Regions from separate parts of the Homo sapiens genome. Here regions 2, 3 and 4 are each reported to be linked to region 1. Evidence: microRNA targets listed by miRTarBase, many of them from high-throughput screens and not tested one by one. Region 1 holds a microRNA gene; each other region holds the end of a gene's coding sequence.

Region 1 (5,070 bases):
CAGTCATCACAGTCGTGGGCCGAATGCCAACCTCGAGGGCACTGAGCAGGTGCACATGGGTGGCCCATGCTGAGATGCCATTTGGCAGGGACAGGGCATCCTCTCTCCTCTGCCCTCACCTTTGGAGCTGGTCACTTCTCCATTTAATTTGTGGGCTTAAAGCAGACCCTCCTTAGTACTTAAGGCTCCAGGGACAAGACTATGGAGTCTGGGATGAAGAGCCCCTGAGTTAAATGACATTACCTGTCTTCAGGAGTCCCCTTTACAGGCCGGGCGCGGGAGCTCATGCCTGTAATCCCAGCACTGGGAGGCCGAAGCGGGCGGATCACCTGAGGTCAGGAGTTAGAGACTAGCCTGGCCAACATGATGAAACCCCGTCTCTACTAAAAATACAAAAATTAGCCGGGCGTGGTGGTGGGTGCCTGTAATCCCAGCTACTCAGGCAGCTGAGGCAGGAGAATCGCTTGAACCCGGGAGGCAGAGGTTGCAGTGAGCCAAGATCACACCATTGCACTCCAGCCTGGGCAACAGAGCAAGACTCTGTCTCGAAAAAAGGAAGTCCCCTTTACAGACCAGATGCCTTCAGATGAAAGGAGGTGAGGCAGGCCTCTAAGTAACATAGTGACCGGCAGGAAGGACTGTCCCGGGAGTAGAGAGGGTGGCACGGAGTCCTCAGTGCCTCTCTGGCTGCGGCTAAGAATGACCCAGCATCCTGACCACAAACTAGAGAGTCTGGGCCTTGGGCTCGAGGGCTCAAAAACTGTTGCCTGCATGAGAAGCACGTGCCGCCTCCAGCACAGTGCCTGACGATACTGTCAGCAGACTGGTTCGCAAGGACCTGGGTGACGGGCAGGTGGGGACTGCTCAGACTGTAGCCACTAAGGGCATCTAAGCCACACCCTGGCTCTGAGGGGAGACCCACAAAGCAACTTTCTGTTGAGAGTTCAACTTTTGACATTTGTGTGTTTCCTCATCTGGATGCACACTGCCTGGTTCCACAGACGATCTGAGGTGATGTGGCTCTCACGTGACCTGCCTACAGTTAACAGTCACAGATGTCATGGGGATAATTGAGTGATTTCCCCATCAGTCTGCTGGGCACGTATTTAGTGTGACTCAGTCTCCCTGAATCCAGCCGCCTCTAAGGACACTCACTGGTACCCCACTGACTGGCCTGCCTCACTGCTGCCAGTCCACACCCAGAGCTGACACCCCAAAGATACTCCAGACGATCGCTCTCTGTCCAACCATGAGCATGAGGGGCTTCTTGGTGTCATTTCCACTCCCCTTGCCAATATTTATTTGGAAACATTTCAAACTACAGAAAAGTTATGCAAATTACATCAGGAACACACACATCCCCTGTGCGGAGATCTGTGCTTTATGTCTTTGAAAGTAAGTTGTCGAGATCACAGCACTCCACCCCTCCACACCGAAGCCCGCAGCTTCTCAGGAAAGGGCAGTCTTGTGTGATCAGTGCATATCATCACACACAGGATGTCTGACACTGGCACCACGCTGCCATCTCAGAGTCCATTTCAATGCTGGGGGTCATCGGTTTTCAGCAGGTTCTTCCCTGGGTTCAACGCGTCTTCCCGCCAGAGGGATGGAATCTTGGGTGAGTGTTGAAATGCGTCAGAAACAAAAACGCAAAGTGGAACTGGAGCACGTCACAGACCTTGGACCAGAAGTGGCCTGTGAGGCACTGGAAGAGACGCCACCGTGCGAGCTGATGGTCACACAGCTTGAGGACCACAAAGCCCAGGCAAGAGAGCACCCCCAAAGCTAAGTAGGTAGCCGAGGTGGTGCTGCCATAGTGCCTGTGGGTGCGCAGCGCCTGCCCCACAGCGGCCACCACGTGAGCACCCAGTGCGACCTCGAAGCCCTGGGGATGCAGCAGAGCGAGGCCATAACTGGCCAGGGAGACGCACTCAAGAGAGAGGAACAGCCAGGGCCGCCAGCCGCGGTCTAGGTAGAGGCACCAGGCCACGGGCCATGCAAAGATGGGCAGTGTGAGCCACTGGTCCAGCACCGCGGCACGGCGCCACTGCGTCCACAGGCGCAGCCACTGCACGGGGCCATAGAGCAGGGCCATGGCTGCGAACACGTCCTTCAGGTAGCGGGGACCCAGCCCCATCGCGCCGCCCCTGTGCAGCCACGACAGCCCCAGCAGCGTGTAGGCCATGTTCACGAGTGAGTTGAACGGCATGGCCAGGAAGGCAGGGAGGCCGGCCACGGGCGCCTCGGCGTAGTGCTCATAGCCCACTTGCACGGAAACACTGTCGAAAATGCCCGTGAACACAGCCACGGCACAGAGGCCACCGGCCACGGCCACGTGCACGAAGGCCTGCCCCCACTCTGGATTCATCTGGAACCGGCGGCGTGACCTGGGGCAGGGAGCTTCAGAGAGCAGCCTTCAATACGCAGCCTCTGCAGAACACTCTGGGCCTCCCGGCTGAGCCAGCAGAAAGAAGCCCCGTGATTTCGTGATTTCCGAGGCAGATGCTGCGACCTTGCCCCGAAGGAAGGCAGGAGTCCTGCTGATTGGCTGGCGCCAGCGGAGGAACGTTCTGCCTTTTTCCTTTGTGGTTACAAAAGGAGTGTGGTTAGAAAACAAACCGTCCCCAGCACCGCCTCCATGTTCCTGACCCCCGGCCTCAGGAGCTACCAACCATCTTCACTGGAGAAGCAAATCAGAGTGAAACCGCTGCACACTGACTCTCTCAAGCCTCTAGAATCCTCTATCACCCCTTTCTCCTGGCACCTAGGAAAATCCTGCCCATCGTCCTAGTTTCCTTAAAGCCACTGCATCTACAGACAAGACCTGTCTAGCTCTGTCATTACAACTCAGAATGCGCCTTCCCATGTCAGTGTGTTATAAAAGTGGACGTCTCCAGCCCCAAAGCCCTTTTCACCAAATACCCAGCTGAACTAGAGACCATTAGATGGAGTCCGAGCTCTGGCCTCTGACACAAGGTGGGGGATGGAGGAGGAGGAGGATTCACCGTCTGCCACTCAAGCACCAGGCCGGGAGGCAAGGGGGTGACCCGCAGGCTTCCCAGGCCAGCTTCCCTGGCTCACTCGCCTGCCCTCTCCTGAAGTGCCAAGCCCCAAATCACCTTCTTTCCTCAGGCCACCATAAAGCCTTCTGTCTCCTTCAGTCACAGAACCAGAGAGACAATTTAATTACCACTGACTGTCAACTGCTTTGGGGCCACTGGTGCTGTAAGTGAGCCCTAGTAGCTGAGAAATACATTAATATGGAAGGGAGAAGAGCTTTAATGCTCTGAAAATGACTCCAATCATTAAAGCTCTTCTCCCTTCCATATTAATAAATTTCGCACTCAAGAGGGTGGGCGGGTAGGCGGGCTCAGGGAGAGAGAAGGGTGGGCTCCAGTTCCTGGTCAGCTGATGCCAGACTGTTCAAACCTTGGCTCTCCCACTTACTAACCATGTGATCTTGCACCTTAACTGTCTTGGGCCTCGGTTTGTGCACCTTTTTTTTTTTTTTTGAGACGGAGTCTCACTCTGTTGCCCAGGCTAGAGTGCAGTGGCACAATCTTGGCTCACTGCAACCTCCGCCTCCCAGGTTCAGGTGATTCTCCTGCCTCAGCCTCCCTAGTAGCGGTGATTAGAGGCGTGTACCACCATGCCCGGCTAACTTTTCTATTTTTAGTAGAGTTGGGGTTTCACCACGTTGGCCAGGCTGGTCTTGAACTCCTGACCTCAAGTGATCCACCCGCCTCAGCCTCCCAAAGTGCTGGGATTCACAGGTATGAGCCACTGTGCCCAGCCCGGTTAGCTCACCTTTGACCTAATCGCTTAGAAGTTCCAGGCCTGGGAGGGATCTTAGAAACCATCTGTGCCAGCCCCGGCATTTCACAGATAAAGAAACTGAAACTCTAGCAGTTTGACTTGGCTGAAAGTTACAGTGAGGAGGAGCAGAAACCCAGGCATGCCGCCTCCTGGCCCCAGGTGCTCTCTGCTCACCTCCCTGGAAGAAGCGCCAGGAGGGCTTCCACGTGGCTTCTTCCTTGCTTTCTGCTGCCATGGCCTGGGTATTTTTATTTAGACACGGGGGTCTTGCTCTGTTGCCCAGGCTGGGGTGCAGTGGCACAATCACAGCTCACTGCAGCCTCCACCTCCTGGGCCCAAGCTATCCTCCTGCCTCAGCCTCCCAAGTAGTTGGGACCAGGGATATACCACCACCTTGCCCTGCTAATTTTTTTTTTTTTTTTTGAGACGGAGTCTTGCTCTGTTGCCCAGGCTGGAGTGCAGTGGTGCGATCTTGGCTCACTGCAAGCTCCATCTCCCGGGTTCACGCCATTCTCCTACCTCAGCCTCCCTACCACAGCGCCCGGCCTGCCCTGCTAATTTTTGTTAAAAAAATTTTGGGCCAGGCATGGTGGCTCATGCCTGTAATCCCAGCACTTTGGGAGGCCAAGGCGGGTGGATCACGAGGTCAGGAGATCGAGAGCATCCTGGCTAACACGGTGAAACCCCGTCTCTACTAAAACAATACAAAAAATAGCCAGGCGTGGTGGTGGGCGCCTGTTGTCCCAGCTACTCGGGAGGCTGAGGCAGGAGAATGGCGTGAACCCTGGAGGCGGAGCTTGCAGTGAGCTGAGATCGCGCCACTGCACTCCAACCTGGGCGACAGAGCGCGACTCCATCTAAAAAAAAAAAAAAAAAAAAATTGTAGAGACAGGGTCTCACCATGTTGCCCAGCCTGGTCTCGAACTCTTGGCCTCAAGTGATCCTCCTGCCTTGGCCTCCCAAAGTCCTGAGATTACAGGAGTGAGCCACTGCACCCAGCTAAACCCCTCTTAAGTTGAAAGTCCAGTTCCTATATTTTCGACTTATGATGGGTTTATCTGGACATTACCCTGTTATACATCAAAAAGCATATGTAGCTGGGCATGGTGGCTCACATCTGTAATCCCAGCAATTTGGAAGGCCAAGGTGAGAGGACTGCTTGAGTCCAGGAGTTTGAGACCAGCCTGGGCAACAAAGTGAGACCCTGTCTCTACACAAAATACATAAAATTAAATTTAAAAAATAAAATAAAAA
Region 2 (5,070 bases), not on the chromosome of region 1:
GGAGGAAGCCTCTTAACTCTGCCCTCACACCCTTTCCAGGGCATCCGTCAGCAGCCAGCAGCTGGCTGGACAAAGAATCTCTGGGGAATCGGGTGAAAGGCAGGTGGGGTGTGGTCCAGGAGGCAACACCAGAGCAGGCCACAGTGGTGTGCAGGGAAAAAAACAGGGCCTGGCTACGGGAGACCCCAACTCTGCCCCTAATCAGCTGTGTAGCATCAGGCAGGTTGCCACCACGCCCTGGACTTCATTTCCTCTTCTGTAAAACGATGGGGTTGGACTAGAACAGGACCCTCTAGCTCCACAACCACGGTCTTTCTGCGCACAGAATGAGAGGCAGTGGAGCTCCCTAACAGAGGGCCCATTGAGAGCAGGGACAAAAGCCTCTGGAATTCCCTCCAGCCTCCATCAGGGACACAGGCAGTTTTCTTCCCTCTGGTTTCTGTCCTCAGGCAACCCCTGGCCCAAGCTCCTAACTGCACTAGAGATCTGTGAACTCACTCTCTTTCCCTCCTAGAAGGAAAGAGGAAGCCAGAGAGGCAGAAAGGAGGCCAGCAGCAGGGCGTGAGGCACAATGAGATAGAATGGGAGGACCTCACATGGAGGGACGCTACAGAGGACCAGGACAGAAGACACACACACCAAGAGCAAACAACCAAACTTTATCCAGAAAAGCATATTTGTAATCACCACTAAACAATGAGGCACATCGGTCCCCTCTCCCCAACCACCCTCACTCTTCCCAAACCCACTCTCTCTTTTGGCTTTTATAGAACACTGTAGAAATCCTTTCCTGAGTCTGCAAATGGCCCCAGACTGGGATGGGAGCTGCCCAGAGTAGTCTTGGGCTGGACTGAGTCCTGGTGCCCAGAGAGGGAGACCTATGCAACTGCCTCCAGTATCCAAAAGTTCTGGGGGCAGGTCGGGTGGCCACCCCTATGGCACAGGGCCTTGAGGGAGGGTGAGTGTGGTGGCGGTCTTACGTGTTCTTCTCATACCTGGCAGACAGAGTGAGCACAAGCCGCTGGAAGCCAAGCGGGAAGGCACATCTAGAAGGGCAGTGAGCTCTGGAATGCTACAGGCACGTGTGGATGGATGAGGCTCCATGGCGGCCAAGGAGATATCTGCTCCTGAGTAAGGTCACCTGACCACAGACAGCACCAGGGGCTGGGGGGCTAAGAAGGAGATCTTGAGAAGGATGGACCTGAGCTAAAGATGTAACTTAGATGGTGATCTGAAAAAAGGAAAAAAGAATAAACGCTGGAACTCAAATCCACTGTTTAGGGTACAGGAGTACACAGCTAAGTTCCAGGTATCCAGAATCTTGTGTCCAAATCATAGCACAAGGAGAACAGGAATTCTCTTGAGTTAAGGCAAAATCAATCTTCACCCATCTGGGCTCTTCCATTGCATGGTTTGGAAAGGAAGGGGCTGGGCAGAGATCATTCCTCTCCCCATCTCCCCCTACTGCCAGTGAAGACTCTGAAAGCTTCTGCAGGCCAAGGCCAGAATGGTGTTGCCAGCCCAGGGCAGCGGGCCCTGAGAGCGGTCGGTGTGACCAGCTCTGGGAATCTCCATGGCCTCAGCAACATGGAAACCTGCAACAGGAGAACCAAAGTCAAAGGGCTTCCAAAGCACCCCAAGTGTCTCACCCCAGGCTCTCACTGCACCAGCACTTGGGGCTGAGGGGACTCCTAGTCTCAAGCCTCGGCCCCCCAAAGTGCTGGGATTACAGACATGAGCCACTGCGACTAGCTGTGAATGTTCTTAATGCCACTGAACTATACACTTAAAAATGGTTAAGATGGTAAATTTTATGTATATTTTACCACAATTTAAAAAATAGCTACATTAACAGTATCTAACATGTATTGATACCCTACTATATAGAGTATAGCCTGGTCATGAAGAGGCCAGGCTGCCAGGGTTCAAATCCTACCTCTACCACTCATTAGCTGGGAGACCTTGGGCAAGGTATTTAACCTCTCTGGGATTCAACCTCCTCATTTGGAATATGGCAATGACATTAGAACCCACCTCATTAGGGTTACTGAGAGAATCAATGGACACCTATAAAATGCTTTGAGACGTGCCAACCATATAATAGAGCTACATAGGTGCTCTGATGGCAACATATCTAGAACTACATTCATGCTTCACACACCCTGAAACTACACCTTTGCAGCCTCCACAGAGAAAGCTAACACCTGTGCACCTAAGCTTTAAAAACAAGCTCACAAAAACACGCAGCCTCCCCTCTTCTAGTTTCTAATCCAGAGAAGGTTGAGCCTTTTCAAACAGCAGACCTGGCCAGGCACAGTGGCTGAGATCTGTAATCCCAACACTCTGGGAGGCTGAGACGGGAGGATCTCTTGAGCCCAGGAGTTCGAGACCAGCATGCAAAATACAATGGGGCCCTGTCTCTACAAAAATTTAAAAACTAGCCAGGCATGGTGGTATGTGCCTGTAGTCCCAGCTACCCGGGAGGCTGAGGTGAGAGGATCGCTTCAGTCTGGGAGGTCGAGACTGCATTGAGCCATAATCACATCACTGCACTCCAGCGTGGGTGACCCAGTAAGACTGCCTCAAAAACAAAACAAAAGAGAAAGAAAAAATAAAAGAGCAGACCATTGAAGGATTTAGCAAAAAGGTTGAATTTTCACAACTCTGTAGATATTGTGGTTATTACCGTCACCTCTCCAACTTGCTCTGAATAAAAACCCTTTAACTTCTGGAAAAGGAGTAGGCTCTGTGCTTTTTATTCAAATGCCCAGGACCCCTTCCAGAAAACCAAGAAGCGTCTTACCTTACAGGCCCAGCCAGCAGGTCACCCCAGCGCCAGAGAGTGGTTCTTCTCTTTGGTAAGGGAGACCCACCCTGTCAGCTGCTCCAGATCAGTGCCGGGATCTCTTGCAGGTGACTTTCCTTTAGCCTGGGAAAACCATCTGAATAACTTTGGCTTCATTTCTCCAACAATGTAAAGGAATGTTCAAATTCCCCAGTTCAGGTCTCTGGCTAGAGGCAGCAATCTACTTCCTCACTGGGGTGGGTCCCCTCCCTCTGCTAGAGAATTCCCTGGGGAAGAAAGAGAAGGCGCCCCCCAAATCTTCAAACAGAACACAGCCAATGGGTTGGGCCCTTCGGCATGAATGAGAGCCGGGACAGCACAGGGATGCTGGGAATCTTAAGGTGGGAATACTGCTCCAGGCCCAGGAGCAGTTAATACAGCAAACTAAATTATTTCTGTAACAGCGGGACTTCTCAGTCTTTGATAAGCTAATGAGCATCTCCAAGAAAGGGAGACAGCACCGTTGACAAACCCATTTGGCCTTGAAACCCTCTTTTAGGAGAGGCGGCTCCTGAGCCAGGGGTCCTGACTCACCCACCCTTTTAATGCAAACAGCGCTGGACTGCAAGTCTGGGTTCCAATCTTACTCTGGCTGTTCCCAAGAGCAGGCTCTGGGTCCCCATCTGTAAGAAGGGGTGGGGTTCACCTTAACATTCCACCATGGTCGTGGAACTCCTAATGCAAACAGATATGGGGGAGGGTGGAGATGAGGGGGGCGGCAGAAGCCTGTGAGGAAGGCTGGGAAGAGACTTGTGTCACGGAGAGGCCAGGACAGTTAGTGTGTGTTTGGCACTGGCCTGCAAAAACCTTAAGGACAAAGGCGGAGTAGGTAGAGGCAAGAGGAGACTCCACAAGTGTAAGGGTACAACCCACCGGCTTCTCCTATCGGTCCCCACCTCGGCGGATGGGCCCCACCCCAAGACAACCGAGCACAGAGAGACCGGCTGGGAGGAGCTTCGCAGGATGCCAGCACAATCCCCAGCTAAAACCAAACTCGTCGCTCATCCTGGGACCAGCCAAGGCCTGTCCTCAGCTCCGCCCGCGGCCCAGCGCCTGCGTTTTACAGCACCGGAGGCTGGATGAGGGGCCAGGGAAGGGAGTGCTCTTCCGACCACGGGGCGGGAGGGAAGGGGGCAGCCAGAAGCCTGGTTCCAATTTGGGAGCCTCCCCCGGATCTGCGCGGCCCCTGTCCACGTCTTAGTCTCAGCAGGGAAGGGAAGAGGAACCGCGAGGTTTCGCCTCGGGGCGGCTCGTCTGCGAGTGTGTGTCAGCCCCTCGGATCGCAGCCTGCGCTTGTCCCGGGAGACGGCGCGTCCGGCGCGGCGGTCGGGATTCTGGGCTGGGATTCTGGGCGGCGGCGGCGCTGCCGTCGGGCGGGAGCTGAGCGTCAGGGTTCCCGGGCGCGGGCGACAGTGGAAACGCTGGAGGGCAGGGAGAGGGTGCCAGGGCGCACCCGCGCGGGGCGGCGGCGGGGGAAGGGATTAAGGAGGCTGGTCTCCGGGGATTCCCCCGCCCCGATCGGGGCCGCGGCGGGCGCGGGCGGCCTCACGCCACCTCCTGCTTGCCCTGGCAGCGACGCCCGCAGCCATAGAGCGCCGAAAGCAGGTAGAGGCCGTGGCAGACGCCGCCGCAGACGGCGGCCGCCAGGAAGGCGTGGTAGGCGCAGGGGAGCGGGTAATCCTTGAGGTTGCAGTAGCTGTGGCGCTGCATCTGGTCGCTCATGATGCCGGTGGCGGCGCCGTAGAGCGCGGCCGCCAGCACATCGTGCGCCACGTTGACCATGAGCCAGCGCGAGCCCAGCACGGGGACCAGCTCGTGCTTGCCCAGCAGCGTGAGGAAGTAGAGGCCCAGGGTGAGCAGCCAGAAGAGCACGGACACGAAGAGCGCGAAGTGCACGGGGCCCTGGTACTTGCTGGTGGCGATAGTGATCCAGAAGGCAGCGCCGGCCAGCAGCTGCAGCAGCCGCAACACGCCCAGCGGGCTGCGCAGGAAGGGCCGCTGCAGGCGCACCGCGCCGCGGGCCGCACGCGCCTGGGGCGGCGGCTGGCGCGGGGGCGGCGGGAGCATGGCCCCTGGGCGCGGTGGCGGCGGCGGCGGCGCCCCGAGCAGCGGAATGGCGGCGCCTTGCTCGCGGGGGCAGCACGGCCCAGGTGCCCGCTGCGCCCGCCGCGGCCTCCTCGCCTTGCTCCCCTCTTAGTCCTCTCTTCCTCTCCTCCTTTCCCCAC
Region 3 (5,070 bases), not on the chromosome of region 1:
TGTGAAGTCTTGAGCAGTGCATAGCCCATACAAGCACTCCTGATATTGGGACCCATTAGTCTGTGCTCAGCTCTGGGATGGGAGCGCCCTCTGGTGGCTGTGGCTGGAAATAACCAGAGGTCCTTCTTCCGGGAGTCTGATGCTAACTAAAGCAGGTTGGAGGTGGCCTAGGGTATTTGTCACAAAAGCGGAGTGGATGATACAGACCTGTGATTGGCCAGCCCTGCCCTTCCCTAATCCCCACGGCCTCCTGCCTGAAAACCCTGGAATACTCTAAAACGGTCCCCAGCTCCGTTCTACTGTTCCAGGCTGTGGAACAGTAGTGGTCCGTGGCCTGTTAGGAACCAGGCCACACAGCAGGTGAGGGGCAAGCGAGCCTTACCGCCTGAGCTCTGCCTCCTGTCAGGTCAGCGGCGGGCATTAGAAGCGCAAACCCTGTTGTGAGGCGCATGCGAGGGTTGCGTGCCCCTGATGATCTAATGTTTGACGATCTGAGGTGGAACAGTTTCATCCCCAAACCATCCCAAGGTTTTTGTGGAAAAATTGTCTTCCACAAAACCAGTCCCTGGTGCCAAAAAGGTTGGGGACCATGGCTCTAAAACCTCCATCACAGTGTCTTTCTGAAGGGTTGGTTCAGCTGCCAGGACGTTGCAGGGATGTTGAGTGGGGAGGGTGGCCCTGGCCTTGTGGCCGGTGCAGAGGCCGAGGGCAGGGCCTGCCAAAGTCACTGTCGGTACTTCTCTCCCTGCAGGCCTCACAGACCCCACCAGCTACTACCTCTCCAGCGTCTGGAGCTTCATTTCCTTCAAGTGGGCCTTCCTGCTCAGCCTCTATGCCCACCGCTACCGGGCTGACTTTGCTGACATCAGCATCCTCAGCGATTTCTGACCCAGGGGGTGAGGTCTCTGCACCCTGGGGGGGCCTTAGGACCTGGACTCAGCCTCTGAGATGTTGGGAGAGGCTACTCCCACCCCCTGGTGACCCCAGAACTGTGGCAGAAAATACACAGCAGGACGAGTGTGGTCTCCCAGGAAGCTGTCCTGCCCGTCCCCTTTCGAGGAAACCTGAGTGTGGTAGAGAGGGGATCCTGCCATGTTGCTCCTCATCAGCCTGGCCAGAGGGCAGCTTTAGACCTTTTCAAATGAATCTGTTTTCTTTTCTTTCTTTTTTTTTTCTTTTTTTTTTTTTTTTGAGATGGAGTCTTACTCTGTCACCCAGGCTGGAGTGCAGTAGTGCGATCTCAGCTCACTGCAACCTCCGCCTCCCAGGTTCAAGCAATTCTCCTGCCTTGGCCTCTCAAGTAGCTGGGATTACAGGCATCTGCCACCATGCCCGGCAAATTTTTGTGTTTTTAGTAGAGACAGGGTTTTGCCATGTTGGCCAGGCTGGTCTCGAACTCCTGATCTCAGGTGATTCACCCGCCTCAGCCTTCCAAAGTGCTGGGATTATAGGTGTGAGCCACCGTGCCCGGCCTGGATCTGTTTTCTTAGCACGCAGTGAGGAATCTTTGTACTTAAGGCCAGGGCAACAAAGTCAAGAGGTCAAGGTGTAGGGCCATGAGGCCTGGACCTATGCTGCAGGCAAGGGTTTCCATCCCCGCTGCCCTAGGCACTCTCTTCCCAAGGCCAGGTTGGGCACCTGGGGAGGTCAGTTCAGAAATATCTAGCAGAGACCTCTTAAACCCCCATCCCAGCACCCCATCCTGTTGTTCCCAGAGCTGGTCTCCCATGAGTGTGCTAGAGCCAGATAGCCGTGGCCCCCCACCCATCTCACTCACACACACAGGCATCCATACACCCCAGAAGACTTCCCAAATGAGGCCAGACTCAGGGTCACGGGGAATGTGCTTCTGCCCCTGTAAGGGCTTTGGGGAAGGGGGCAACATAGTAGAGGCTGGAAAGAGCCCCCAAACCTGTACCCATGCCCCTCCAGCCCTGCGTTTCCATTCTGCCTTCTCAGAGTGCCCTTGCTGCACCCAGACCACCGGCCAGGAGAGACCTTCTCTCCCACTCCAGCCCCTCTCACTGCCCTTCAACTAGAGCTTTCACCTTTTTACATTTCCCTTCTGAAGGACACAAATCTGCTTTTCTGCCCATACACTGGCCCAAGGGCTCACCTAACTTGGGAGGGAAGGGGCTGTTGGTACAAGGATGATTTTCTGTTAGACTGCCATTTTGCACGGTCTCCCCCTTCCCATCTGATGTGTCCTGCCCCTCAGCTCTTTGCCTTATCTGTGTCACTGTCACTTTAGCAAAAATACAGCGGCCATTTGTATCAGCCTCTGGTGGTTGCTTGTGAGGTGGGACTCTTGCGGGAACAGGTGGACTTTGGGAGGAGTGGGCAGGGAGGGAGTGGTAGTGGCAGTTCTCGAGCTATCTGATTAAGCCATTCCGCTAGTTCAGTTGTGCCCTGGAGGGCAGGGGACAGAGTCAGTATCTCTGGGGCTGCAGGCCCTCTTGCCTTGGCCCTCCTGGCATGGGGTAACCACCAGCTCAGCTCTCCTCCTCCAGCTTTCCTCTCTCTAGCACACCCCAGCCAGGGCAAGGATGCCCACGGGCATAGCTACAGCAACCCCTGCGGGATTTGGTGTCCACACCCGAGAGGCCAGGCCAGATGGGAAAGGGATTAGCGCCTCTTCCCTCACACTCTGCCAGGCTGCCAGGAGCTTGGGCCAGGTCTAAGGTAATGAGGTGCTCCTCTTCCTGCTGGAAAAACCGGACAGACTCAGAACCACAAAGGCAGGTGCTGCCAGCCTGGCGCCTTCCTCTCTGCTTAGGCTGGGTGAGCTTGTCCAGGCCTGTGCCTCACCCCTTCTCTCTTCTAGGCTCAGTGTATGCTTAATCAGGCATGGTGCATCAGAGCGGGAAGGAGCCATCAACAGTGTATACTTCTGGAGCCTTCTACTGATAAACAGAGGCCCCAGAAGACGATTTGACTTACCTGAGCTCCCAGCTGGGACTTAAACCCAGGTGTGTCTGAGTCACAACTCTTCGGGGATGCCGTGGTGAGCTGGGGCTGAGCTCCTGTATTCCCACTCCCCCACCCCACCCCCACTCCTGCCATATCAGGGCTGGTCTCTGTGGACTCAGCCCAGGGCTGCCTCCTCTTTGTCACCCCAAAGTGGGGCAGCCAGGGACAGCCAGGGTGTGTTCAGAATGGGTTCTTCCTGCAGGGCAGGAAGGGCAGATTGTTAAAGGGGCTGCGGCCCAGACCACCCTGGTCCCTCCTCCGGCAGTGACTCAGACCCACACTGTGCCGTGCAGCTGTGTGCCCTGCACACCCGCTTGACGGCGCACTGCTCACTTCTGGGGGGCCCTTTCAGAGGCACTTTTAAAGCAAATAAAACATTTATTGTTCAGATTTTTTTCCATTTTCTTCCTTTTTACAAAAACATGCATACATACACAGGGTATGGTGGGTCCTAGGAAAGACACACACACACGCCTCACTCACACACACGCTCACACACACGCCTCACTCACACACATGCTCACACACATTTTCCTTCTTGACCCCAGGCCTGGACCCCCAAAAGCCTTGAAGACTTTGCCAGAGCAGCCTCCCCTCCTCCATGTCTGTATCTTCTCTCCCACCCCTTCCCCCTCAGTCAGGCTACTCCTATGTGGGGTGGGAATCAGAGCTATGGTGGGGGAGGCCCCAGAAACAGAGAAGGCTCCCCGAGTGGGCAGTGGCCGAGGGGTCCCAGGGGTATGCTGCGCTTCTTGGGGAGATGAAGGGTTTGGCACCATTGGATCAGGAAGCACAGGACTCCCAGAGCACCCATCTGCTCCACCAGGGCATCGCCAGGAGGTTGATGTAGGGGGGCCTCTGGCGAGGGTACGGACCAGATGGAGGGCTGCCAGTCTCGGCTGTCAGGGAGCTTCGTCTCAGTGCCCAGTGGTAGAGGGAAGCTTCCAGAGTCGTCTGAGGAAGCAGGTGAGAGGGACTACCCCTGCACTCAGGAATATGGGACCTCTTGGCTCCCCACTCCCCCCTAGCCCCTAGAGCCTAGGAAGGGCCAGCCTGTCTGAGGCCAAGTTCACATTTCTGTGTGGAGCCTGAGGCTGTGTGCAAAGTCTGGGGTTTGCAGAGCCAGGAATAGTGGTTAAGGGTGAGCCCGACGGAGCCGGAGCCAGTCCTCCTCTGTGCAGTCCTGAGGAATGGGGGCCACAGCCAGGGCCCATACTGGAGGGGAGAATCTGTTCTCGAGAGCCCTGTGGGGGTCGCCGCCCAGCCCGTCTCCTCTCAGGGTCCTCTCCAGTTCCCATTCTAGACCCAGGGATTTTCTCACGCTCCCTGGGATAACTGTCAAAGCAGGCAGGCTGTTCTCTGGTTCCAACTACTTGCCCACAGGATCTCTAAAGACCCAGGAATGGGGGCTATTGCCAGGGGTTAGAAGAGAACCAGGTCCCAAGGGCATGGTGGGCGGGCAGATGGTTCCAGAGCCTTAGAGATTCATAGGTTCTTCCTCCTCCACCAGCTGCTCCGAGGGCCTGTGGGGAGGGACAAGGGTGGGATGCTGGAGCACCAGGGCTGCAGCAAGGGCCTTAGCTAAGCTTCCTCTCAACCCTGGTCAGGAAGCCTGGGAGGGTTGGGGTGGCTGCATAGCGGACCCGGGGTCTTCAAGCAGGGAGGAATGAAGCGGTGGAGAGGCTGTGGGCCCAGGGCCAGGGGTCTGGCATTACCTATCTTCAGCCAGGATGCCCACAGAGAGGGACGCCAGTGCGGTCACTGCCTCCACTTCTTCTTTGTCAGCCCCTGGCACTCTAGGCACCCAGGAGTCTGGACAGGAGGCCAGGCGCTGCATGCAGCCCCAGTATTTACCTGGGGTAAGATGCCAGGTCAGAAAGGGTTGGAGAAAGCAAGCCCCTCCACACTGCGTCCTAGACCGGATATTGAGGTTGGTGTCTCAGGCCCAGGGCCCCGGAGGAGCGGGCCTGTCCTCCACTTAGGGTCGGCTCTCCCACCTGCCCCTCTCCTCACTTCGCTCCCACTCCCGCACAGCCTGACAGGGTACACAGAGTGGGTTCAACATGGCTGTGAGGGAGTCCTAGCAGGTGCCCAGCCTTT
Region 4 (5,070 bases), not on the chromosome of region 1:
GGCCCTGGACCCCGTGCACCAGCCCCCGCCACCCCCCGCTACCCTCAAGGTGGCCGAGCCCCCGCCACGGCCGCCACCACCACCGCCGCCCACGGGCCAGATGAACGGCACGGTGGACCACCCGCCGCCTGCCGCCCCCGAGCGCAAGCCCCTGGGCACCGCCCCGCACTGCCCGCGCCTGCCACTGCGCAAGACCTACCGCGAGAACGTGGGGGGCCCTGGCGCGCCGGAGGGGACGCCCGCAGGCAGGGCACGGGGAGGCAGCCCGGCGCCGCTGCCCGCCAAAGTGGACGAGGCCACCAGCGGGCTCATCCGCGAGCTGGCGGCCGTGGAGGACGAGCTGTACCAGCGTATGCTGAAGGGCCCCCCGCCAGAGCCCGCAGCCAGCGCCGCCCAAGGCACCGGGGACCCCGACTGGGAGGCGCCCGGGCTGCCCCCTGCCAAGCGGCGCAAGTCCGAGTCGCCCGACGTGGACCAGGCCAGCTTCTCCAGCGACAGCCCGCAGGATGACACGCTCACCGAGCACCTGCAGAGCGCCATCGACAGCATCCTGAACCTGCAGCAGGCCCCCGGCCGGACGCCCGCGCCCTCGTACCCCCACGCTGCCTCGGCCGGCACCCCCGCATCCCCGCCGCCCCTGCACAGGCCCGAGGCCTACCCACCCTCCAGTCACAACGGTGGCCTCGGCGCCAGGACGTTGACCAGATAACACCGGGCCGCCTCCCCTTCCCCGTCCCCTCCTCCCGAAGACGCCGGGACAGTCGGGTGTCCGCCCTCAGCCTCCTGGGGACTCGAGCCGGGGATCCCCTGACGGTTTTTCTTGCCTAAGTTATTTGAGTCACAAAGGCCTCCTTCCCTGCCGCCTGCTTCAGCTGGGTTGCTGGGGGGTGGGCGTGGATTTAGGGAGGGGGCTGTGATGTAAAACGTCTCCCCTGCCAAAGGAGGGGCAAAGTGCTGTGTCAGTTCCTGTTTCTTCCCATTTCCTGGCACACTCTGCCCCTCTGTCCGGGGGACACGCGCATGTGTTTGCCAGGGATGGGGCCACCGGGTTGATGCCAACGCTCCGGGTGCCTGTCTTGTCTGTGTGGCTTCTCAGATGGTGGAGGGTGCTGGGAGCTGGCAGGGTCCTTCCAGACAGTCTCAGCCTCTCCCCGCCGCCCCCAACAGGCTGTCAAACAAAACCGGAGAGGGGGTGGGGGAGCCAGCCTCCCAGCGTGCTGTGCCCGCAGGCACCCGTGTGACATCCGCACGTCCAGCTCCGTGACCTGTGTGTGTGTGTGTGTGCACAAGTGAGTGAGAGATTTCGAACGCCCACCCCTCGACTTTGAAATCTGAGCAAAACAAGAAACTGGGGTCTTCCTCTCCCCCGAACCTCTCCCCAGCTAGTCTTCCCTCTGTTCTTCCTGCCTCCAGCCGCCCGCGCCAGATTTTGAAATCTCGGAGACAAAACTAGTACTGTAAGATAAATTTTTTTGTACTGTATTTATTGTGTATAACGATTTTTTTAAAGGAGAATTCTGTACATTTAGAACTCTTGTAAATTAAAAACCGATCCTTTTTTTAAAACTGTACTCATGCCCCCTTGGCCCATTGCTTTTGGGTTTGTGAGGGTGGGGGAGTGTTTGGATCTGGGATTGTGAGGCCTTCTTCCGCATGCATCTGTTGAGCACCTGCTGAGTACCAGGCCCCGTTCTAGGCTCAGGGGGTTCAACATGAACAAGGCAGACAAGAGTCCCTGCTAAGCCGGTAAGCTGACTTGTTAGTGGGGAAGGCGGGTGGTAAACAGCTAAGCCAGATCAAGCCAGTTCTTCTTATTTCCGGTAAGGTTCTATAATCTCTGCATACACTCTGAGAATTAGTGAATACTGAGCCATTGCCCCCAGGGAGACAGGGTTAGGTTTCTAAGGGCCTCTGATCACCACAGTTCAGTCAATACATCACCTTAGTTTACATGTGTTGCTGTTTAAAAACACTTCTTTATGTATTTTTGAGACGGGCTCACTCTGTCACCCAGGCTGGAGTGCAGTGGCACGATCGTGGCTCACTGCAGCCTTGATCTCCCAGGCTCAAGTGATCCTCCCACCTCAGCCTCCCGAGTAGCTGGGATTATAGGCGCACCACCACGCTTAGCTATTTTTTTTTTTAATCTTTCTGTAGCAATGGGATCTCACTATGTTGCCCAAGCTGGTCTGGAACTCCACGGCTCGAGTGATCCTCTGGCCTTGGCCTCTCAAAGTGCTGGGAATACAGACGTGAGCCACCACGCCCAGCCCTAAAGATACCTTATTTCATTTATATTGTTGATTCATTCACATTGAAGTCATGCCAACAGCATTATAACTGGAACCTGGAGCAAGCCTATTTCACACATATATTTTATCTTTTCTCCAAAGGCACATCACAGCTTCTTGGTGCTTTAAGGTCACTAGACCGCACTTCAGCTGTACGCTTGGGCCCATTTTAAACAATGAGTCACCAACAAAAAGCACAAAAATGTGAAAAGCGTGGGACTAGATAAACCAAGAAAAGGACGCGTGTTTATGGTACGAGAGCCAAAACGAGGGCAGAATGTCGCCTTATTCAACCTCAGCTGGGAACGAACGTCTGTGTTGGGCAACTTGATATTTTGCTGCCGTGTGTGTGTTGAGAGTCTTGACTTGGGGGTTACAAAGAAGTTTTGATGAGCAGATAAATGCACAAATATGGCATTTGCAAATAGTGAGGGTCCACTGTAAATGTATACAGTGTCAGATGCCCATATAAAGAAGAATCAGGCCAGGCACGGTGGCTCACACCTGTAATCCCAGCACTTTGGGAGGCCAAATCGAGTGGGTCACCTGAGGTCAGGAGTTCGAGACCTGCCTGGCCAACATAGTGAAACCCCATCTCTACTTATAAAAAATATATATATATACAAAAATTAGCTGGCATGGTGGCACACGCCTGTAGTCCCAGCTTCTTCAGAGGCTGAGGCAGGAGAATCGCCTGAACCCAGGAGATGGAGGTTGCAGTGAGACGAGACTGACACTCCAGCCTGGGCAACAGAGTGAGACTCTATCCCCCGACCAACAAAAAAAAAGAAGAAAAAAAATCATGCTAGGTGTATTAGTCCCCTCAAGCTGCTATAACAAAATGCCCCAAATAGGGCAGCTTAAAACAACAGATATTTATTCTCCCACAGCCCTAGAGGCCTGAAGTCTGAAAACAAGGTGGCATCAGGGCCATGCCCACTCCAGAGGTGCTAGGGAAGGATCCTTCCTTGTCTCTGCCAGTTTCTGGTGGCCCCAGGTTCTCCTTGGCTTGTGGCTGAATCAGTCCAATCTCTGGCTGACTTCCCACTGTATCTCTTCTCTTCTAAGGGCATCAGTCATATTGGAGTTTTGCCCATCCTACCAGTATGCCCTTGTCATAACTTAATCATATCTGCAAAGATCCTGATTCCCTTTTTTTTTTCTTCTAGCTTTCTTTTTCTTTTTCTTTTTTTGAGACAGATGTCTTGCTCTGTCGCCCAGGCTGGAGTGCAGTGGCACGATCTCAGCTCACTGCAATCTCTGCCTCCAGGGTTTAAGTGATTCTCCTGCCTCAGCCTCCCGAGTAACTGGGACTACAAGCATGTGCCACCACGCCCAGCTGATTTTTTGTATTTTTAGTAGAGACGGAGTTTCACTGTGTTAGCCAGGATGGTCTCAATCTCCTGATGGCATGATCCACCGGCCTCAGCCTCCCAAAGTGCTGGTATTACAGGCGTGAACCACCGCGCCCAGCCCTTCTAGCTTTCTTCAGATCACAGACCCTGATTCCAAATAAAATTACATTCACAGGCACTAGGGTTAGGACATCAGCCTATATTTTGAGAGGACAGAACAACTCAATCCGTAATGCAGGGTAAGGAGGTGGGTGTCACAAGTGAGTGACAATTATCTGGGCTGGTGGTGTGGGGGTAAAAGAATTTACCAAGACAGTGGTAGGTTAAAAAAAAAAAAAAAAAAGCAGATTTATGGGCTCACGCCTGTAATCCCAACTCTTTGGGAGGTGGGCGGATCACTTGAGGTCAGGAGTTCAAGACCAGCCTGACTAACAGTGAAACCCCATCTCTACTAAAAATACAAAAATTGGCTAGGTGCAGTGGCTCACGCCTGTAATCCCAGCACTTCGGGAGGCTGAGGTGGGTAAATGACCTGAGGTCAGGAGCTTGAGACCAGCCTGGCCAACTTGGCAAAACCCTGCCTCTACTAAAAAATACAAAAATTAGCCAGGTGTGGCGGCAGGCACCTGTAATCCCAGCTACTCAGGAGGCTGAGGCAAGAGAATCACTTGAACCCAGGAGGCAGAGGTTGCAGTGAGTTGAGATCGCGTCATTGCACTCCAGCCTGGGTAACAAGAGTGAAACTCCATCGAAAAAAGGTAATAAATAAATAAAAATACAAAATTAGCAGGGCGTGGTGATGCACACCTGTAGTCTCAGCTACTTGGGAACTGGGAGGATCACTTCAGCCCAGGAGGCAGAGGTTACAGTGAGCCAAGACTGCACCACTGCACTCCAGCCTGGGCAACAGAGTGAGACTCCATCAAAAAAAAAAAAAAGGCAGATTTATGAAATAAAGTAGGAAAATATATTGCAAAGTTGCAATGGGCAACACAGCCAGGGAGAAGCTGACTGCAAGGAAACAAAGGCTTGCTGGGGGTTGTATAGGATGGAGTTGGTTTTTTCATTTGCTTTTTAGATAGAGTCTCGCTCTGTCACCCAGGCTGGAGTGCAGTGGCATGATTTCAGCTCACTGCAACCTCCGCATCTCGGGTTCAAGCAATTCTCCTGCCTCAGCCTCCTGAGTAGCTGGGATTACAGGCACCCATCACCATGCCCAGCTAATTTTTGTATTTTTAGTCGAGATGGGGTTTCACCATGTTGGCCAGGCTGGTCTCGAACTCCTGACCTCAAGTGATCCGTCTGCCTCTGCCTCCCAAAGTGCTGGGATTACAGGCGTGAGCCACCATGCCCGGCATATAGGAGAGTTCATGTTGTGTGCTGAAGAGGGCTTTGTGCAGTACTGATAATGCCAGGGTTACAGT

Evidence for each region. Region 1 holds the annotated microRNA hsa-miR-3202 (UGGAAGGGAGAAGAGCUUUAAU, at 3,262-3,283, shown strand). A microRNA usually pairs through its seed, bases 2 to 8, with sites in the 3' UTR of a target mRNA and lowers its output. Matches are read on the target gene's strand: a 7mer-m8 pairs with bases 2 to 8, a 7mer-A1 pairs with bases 2 to 7 and ends in A, and an 8mer does both.
Region 2: miRTarBase lists MARVELD1 as a target of hsa-miR-3202. Seed matches in the 3' UTR shown: 7mer-m8 at 4,319-4,325, 7mer-m8 at 4,056-4,062, 7mer-m8 at 3,971-3,977, 7mer-m8 at 3,937-3,943 and 7mer-m8 at 1,421-1,427.
Region 3: the mRNA of SLC48A1 is a reported target of hsa-miR-3202. Seed matches in the 3' UTR shown: 7mer-A1 at 1,428-1,434 and 7mer-m8 at 2,188-2,194.
Region 4: the mRNA of BICRA is a reported target of hsa-miR-3202. Seed matches in the 3' UTR shown: 7mer-m8 at 724-730 and 7mer-A1 at 1,127-1,133.

What each region holds. Positions count from the first base shown.
Region 1 is chrX:153,979,361-153,984,430 of GRCh38, reverse strand. It overlaps MIR3202-2 (microRNA 3202-2), which reads left to right and starts at 3,255; the gene lies at 3,255-3,333. TMEM187 (transmembrane protein 187) reads right to left here. Exons shown (of 2, transcript NM_003492.3): 2 at 1,237-2,581. The coding sequence starts at 2,368. The coding sequence ends at 1,583. MIR3202-1 (microRNA 3202-1) reads right to left here and starts at 3,334; the gene lies at 3,254-3,334. RefSeq lists enhancers at 1-40, 3,848-3,957.
Region 2 is chr10:97,713,719-97,718,788 of GRCh38, reverse strand. MARVELD1 (MARVEL domain containing 1) reads right to left here and starts at 5,059. Exons shown (of 2, transcript NM_031484.4): 1 at 2,804-5,059; 2 at 639-1,595. The coding sequence starts at 4,912. The coding sequence ends at 4,391. RefSeq lists a silencer at 4,168-4,387 and an enhancer at 4,698-4,747.
Region 3 is chr12:47,779,394-47,784,463 of GRCh38, forward strand. It overlaps SLC48A1 (solute carrier family 48 member 1), which reads left to right. Exons shown (of 3, transcript NM_017842.3): 3 at 752-3,358. The coding sequence ends at 888. HDAC7 (histone deacetylase 7) reads right to left here. Exons shown (of 26, transcript NM_015401.5): 25 at 4,686-4,824; 26 at 3,329-4,493. The coding sequence ends at 4,448. Among named protein-coding and RNA genes, the nearest start is that of SLC48A1, 8.7 kb to the left of the region's middle. RefSeq lists a silencer at 143-192.
Region 4 is chr19:47,701,707-47,706,776 of GRCh38, forward strand. It overlaps BICRA (BRD4 interacting chromatin remodeling complex associated protein), which reads left to right. Exons shown (of 15, transcript NM_001394372.1): 15 at 1-1,571. The coding sequence ends at 709. Among named protein-coding and RNA genes, the nearest start is that of EHD2, 9.2 kb to the right of the region's middle.